2 separate regions of the Homo sapiens genome follow, and region 2 is linked to region 1. A link means that fine-mapping ties the variant in region 1 to the expression of a gene that starts in the linked region. Tissue or cell type: tibial nerve. Region 1 holds a variant in brackets; the other region holds the start of a gene. All regions are shown on one strand. Distances are between the middles of the regions.

The links. PIP is the estimated chance that this variant, and not a neighbour inherited with it, causes the effect.
Region 2: WDR37 starts here. The variant in region 1 is fine-mapped to the expression of WDR37 in tibial nerve (GTEx, PIP above 0.99). The same link has a PIP of 0.9 or more in pancreas, subcutaneous fat and whole blood.

What each region holds. Positions count from the first base shown.
Region 1 is chr10:1,094,300-1,096,983 of GRCh38, reverse strand. WDR37 (WD repeat domain 37) reads right to left here. Exons shown (of 14, transcript NM_014023.4): 9 at 738-814. Among named protein-coding and RNA genes, the nearest start is that of WDR37, 39 kb to the right of the region's middle. RefSeq lists an enhancer at 147-1,346. The variant T/C (reference allele first, on the strand shown) is at 1,258.
Region 2 is chr10:1,055,122-1,057,805 of GRCh38, reverse strand. It overlaps WDR37 (WD repeat domain 37), which reads right to left and starts at 1,421. Exons shown (of 14, transcript NM_014023.4): 1 at 838-1,421. It also overlaps a transcript of IDI1 not described here. RefSeq lists enhancers at 704-763, 864-923, 1,724-1,773 and silencers at 1,024-1,453, 1,884-1,943.

The DNA.
Region 1 (2,684 bases):
CCTCCTCTAAGCCTCAGCAGAAAGGCCTTCAACATCCACTTTTCCACAACATTCTGTCTATGATACCTGCATTCTCTGAGATGCTAGAAGCTTTCTCTCCAGCTCTCCCCTTTCCTCTCTGAGCCTTCACCCGAGTCCCCATTGATGTCCGTATTTCTACCAACAAGCTCTTCGCCGCTATGGAGGCTTTCTCCAGCAGGTCCCTGAAAACGTCTGCAGCATGTACCCATTCCCGGTCCCGAAGCCAGGTCCACACCGTCGGCATTTCTCCAGCAGCCCCCGCTCTGCGCGCGGTACTGAAATCTGTCTCAGTTGGCTCTGGCTGCCGCAACAAAAGGCCGCAGACCGGGCGACGCATAAAAAACAGACATTTATTTTCTCACAGTGCTGGAGGCTGGAAGTCCAAGATCAAGCCAATTCAGGTTCTGGTGCGGGCTCATCCTTAAAGACGGCCGCCCTCTGGCTCTGCTCTTACGTGACACGGAGAGTGACAGAGAGATTGAGAACACAGGTGAGCTCTCCACTGTCTCCTCTTATGAGGACCTCACGCAACCTCACTGAACCTTAACTACTACCTTAGAGGCCCAATCTCCAAATTCAACCATACCGGGGGTGAGGCCTTCAACACTGAACTTGGGGGGACACAAACATTCCGTCCATGACAGATATCATAAATGGATTCTCAGATTCGCAGACATCAGCATCCTACACATTCACAGGTAAGGAAAGGTGCTTACACTAGTGTCAGCAACAGGCTGGGGTGTCGGCAGCTGCACCGCGTATCTCCAGATATGAGCAGTCTGATCTCCAGAAGCTGAAGAGAGAAATCGGGGAAAATTACCCAAGGCACAGACCATGGTAAAATGCGCTCTTCACCGCCACTATGGCTAAGCAGCAGCAGTCAGACCTTTCCAGCTTAGTGACCACTTAGTGAGAGGAATGTACTTTTTACTTAAATAACTCTTTTCTGAGACTGCATAATGCTATTGAAAATAGAGTACATGTCCAAAATTGAGGAAATAATGATTACTTATAAAACTATTTCACCTTTCATTTTAGCATAGAAAGTCCTGGAAGTTCAGAGAAAATGTACAAATAGTAGATTTTCCTCTCCATCTATCTAACCTAAGAAACCCTATCATATCAGAACTTACAGCTGCAATCAACTCTGAGACGTTCGGGAAAGCGACACTCATCTCCATCCATTCAACACACACGCGGCCTTTCAATGGGCCAGGCACCTATCAGCACTGCTCA[T/C]GTGTGCGGCTCCCGTCCCACTCTGTTTTCAGCAGCCAGTTTGCGAGGAAACGCTTTGACTGAGGATTGGAAAGACAAAAGGACAGCACTGCGGGGCACAGAACAGGCCTCGGACACCAGCATGGCCACCTCTCACCCACACACGGGCAGGCTGGCTTCCACCTTCTCTTCACTGCCACCCAGCTTCTCTAAAGGAGCTGCTCTGAGCTGATGCAGCACATTTGATGCAAATGAATGTACTGCCCGGACTTGCAACTCCTCCTCAAATCAACATCATGCCCAATCCCAGTCTAACTCTCCTCTCTCCATGCCCGTTACCTCACGTTTCCCCTCTAACTCTCCTCTCTCCATGCCTGTTACCTCACGTTTCCCAGTCTAACTCTCCTCTCTATCCCCATTACCTCACATTCCCAGTCTAACTCTCTCCTCTCTATGCCCATTACCTCCAGTTTCCAAGTCTAACTCTCCCCTCTCCATGCCCATTACCTCACGTTTCCAAGTCTAACTCTCCTCTCTCCATGCTCGTCACCTCACATTTCCCAGTCTAACTCTCCCCTCTCCATGTTCATTACCTCATCTTTCCCAGTCTAACCCTCCTCTCTCCATGCCCATTACCTCACGTTTCCAAGTCTAACCCTCCTCTCTCCATGCCCATTACCTCACGTTTCCCAGTCTAACTCTCCTCTCTATACCCATTACCTCATGTTTCCCAGTCTAACCCTCCTCGCTATCCCCATCACCTCACGTTTCTCAGTCTAACTCTCCCTTCTCTATGCCCATTACCTCCTGTTTCCAAGTCTAACTCTCCTCTCTCCATGTTCATTACCTCATGTTTCCCAGTGTAACTCTCCTCTCTATCCCCATTATCTCACATTTCCTAATCTAACTCTCCCCTCTCTATGTCCATTACCTCACGTTTCCAAGTCTAACTCTCCTCTCTATCCCCATTACCTCATGTTTCCTAGTCTAACTCTCCCCTCTCTATGTCCATTACCTCATGTTTCCAAGTCTTCATCAGTTCCTGGATGTGTCTGGTTCCACCCTCTTTTCCAGCCCTTTGGTTTGAATCTGGACACGTCTAATTGCCACCAGTCTCCTTGCTCCCTTTTCAATCATCCCACAAACCGCCAACTTCGTAAGGTGTAAACTCCTTGTCTGCTTTAGTCTTCATCCACGTATGAAGGTGAAAGTCAGCTATGTGGTCTGGGCCTGCTCAAAATGACTCTCAGGCTAACCCTCCCACCACATTTCTCTCTCACATAGAAACTCCAACCAAACCGCATGACTCGCTGCATCCCACACACTGGAAGTACCTGTTGCTGGGGCTCCTTCTTAAACAACTCCACCTGCATGAAGGGGCCAGTCATCTCAACCTCAGTGTTCTATTCCTGCGTCAGCACAATTTGGCCCATAGGCGAAACCCAGAC
Region 2 (2,684 bases), 39 kb after region 1:
TTTTCTATAATGGTATCCGCTTCAAGGGACGAATGTTTTAGCGTTTAAGTTAAATGACAAAATCTCTAAAAACCTGGCAGACCTTAAGCTATTTTCACTCACAACCTGGAAAAATGTATTTATTCAACTTGGTTTAGTAAATGAGTACATTATTATTGTTGCTCTTGTGTTATTCCGGTGAACAGCTGTCTTAAAATGTTTCCCTCCAGCGGTGGCTGCTTTCAGGGGGAAGGGAAGGAAAAGGAAGTCTTCAAAAGGGGAACAATATCATGGCGCTGTGTTAATCACTTCAGCATCCGTCACTCCACACTCACCACCCTTCTTGAAGCCGACCATCCCCACTCTTTGGAGAGAAGAAAGGCCATTCTCCTCTCTGAAGGGCCTCCCAAGTGCTTCCCTGGAGACGCACTTCCCCGGGATGCCCAGGCCGAAGCAAAGGGGGCGGGGAGAGACCCCGGGCCGAACCCTTCTGCCCCCAACCCCTCCAGCGCCCCGACTCTTCCTGGACTCCGACATCTTCTGCACCGCCCCGGGCCCCCATCCCTCCCGCACCCTGGTCCCTCTGGCACCGCCACGGACTACTCCTGCGCCCCGACTTCTCTTGCACCCTGAACCCTTCTGCACCACGGCCCTTCCTGCACCGCCACGGGTCCTCCAGGGACCCGACCCCTCCTGCACCACCACGGACCCTCTGCATTCCAAGCCCACCTGCACCCCATCCGCCACTATGCCCCGACTGCCCCTGCACCCCCTTGAGCCCTGCAGTGTCCCGACTCCTCTTCGGGGCATCCGGGGAACGACTCGGCGCCTGACAGGTAGGAAGATGGCGGCACTCACCTGTCACAGCAGCTGCGCCCGCCACCCCCGGAGCCAGCCCAGGTCGCGCACCGCCAGTGAGTCCCTACGACGCGGCCCCCCGTACTGACCCGAAGACGCGCAGGACACCGCTGTCTCCGCACTGACGCGACCCCACAACCCCAACCTGGCGCTAATGCACTTCCGGTGTCGCCGGAAGTCCCGCCCCAGTCCCGCGCCGCTGGGTTCTCCGGAAGCCGCCCCACACCTCCGCCCCACACCCGGCGGCGCCGGAAGTCACGCCCCGGCTTCCGCCCCGCAGCCCCGAGGGGTCTGGGCGCGCTGAAGACCCCTTCGGCTGCTGGGCCAACGCCCCCACCCTTGGTCACGTACTCCTGCCGCCGAGCGGTTCGCGGGAGGTGGCCTCGGGGGTCGTAGCTACTCACCGGCGGGGCGCTCCGAGTCCATCTGCCCCGTAGCCCGGCAGCCGGGGCGGGAGGGCTGCGAGCCCGGGGCGCGGTCCGCCTGAGGCCTGAGACCCGGGGCCGCCTGCGCTCAGGGCCGCGGTGCCGGCCGCGCGGGAGCCTGGCGGGGACGGCGCGGTCAGTGTTCGGCTCCTCCGCAGTGACTCACCAGCGTCCTGAAGCTTTTGATCACCATTGGCTGGGAAGGAAAAACAGAATCAGCTGTTCCCTGCGAAAGGTGGGACTTGGGCCGCTTTTTTCTTAGAATCTAGGTTGGAAACGTCGCATGATGGTCTTTACGTAAACAGCCGTCTCAACGCTCTACAGAAAGCGCTAACCGCGCATTTGAAGCCCACCTAGAGTAAATCAAGAGCGTGAAAGCATTTTTTTTTTCTGTGTAGGTTAACATTCCTGCTCCTTCCTTTAAAAAGGAAGCTCAAGGCCAGGCGCGGTGGCTCACGCCTGTAATCCCAACACTTTGGGAGGCCGAGGCCGACGTATCACGAGATTAGGAGGTCGAGACCAGCCTGGCCAACATGGTGAAACCCTGTCTTTACTAAAAATACAAAAACTAGCCGGGCGTGGCGGCGCGCGCCTGTAACCCCTGCTACTCGGAAGGCTGAGGCAGGAGAATCGCTTGAACCCGGGAGGCGGAGGTTGCAGTGAGCCGAGATCGCGCCTCTGCACTCCAGCCTGGGACAGAGCGAGCCTCCGTCTCCAAAAAAAAATAAGGAAGCTCAAGATGAAGAGTCAGAAGTGGTAACTTGTTTGTTGCACAAGAAACAAATTTAGCATTCTATTTAGGGGATCCAGATTACCAAAAAAAAAAAAGAAGTGAAGTTATTTCTGCATTAAGTATATTAATAAAACTTTATCACTAAAAACAATTCTGTAAGAGGAACGCCAAGGAAAAAAATATTTGAGTTTTTAGAGAAGTCATTTTTTAAACTTTTAGAGGTTGTGACATTTAAGTAACATAATTTTATTTAGTACCTAGTATGCAAAGACATTGTACTGGGCATGGCAGCAAATAGAAAGCTTTGTAAATCGCAGTGTCCCATCTAATTAACCCGCATTCTAACAGGTGGTTTTATTTTTCTGGACCGCACCACAGTCAGGTAACACCAAGAATATCGCTAATGTAATTTTTTAAGTTGATATATTTAGGATTCCATAAAAGTCACTGAAAATAACTGAGAGCATGACATGTCACAAAACAAGGGAAAGAAATCATTTTGAGGATCAGTCGCTTTACATCTTTTGTAACTAATTTAATCCCCAAAGGAATCCAATAAAGTAAAAGTTATTCTAAATTGAATTTTAAGCATGAGAATGTGGAAATTACTCGTCAAAAGTCAAAAATAATCGTGCAGCAGGGCAAAGACTAAAGGCTGGCATCAGAATCCATATTCTTTTCACTGTTGA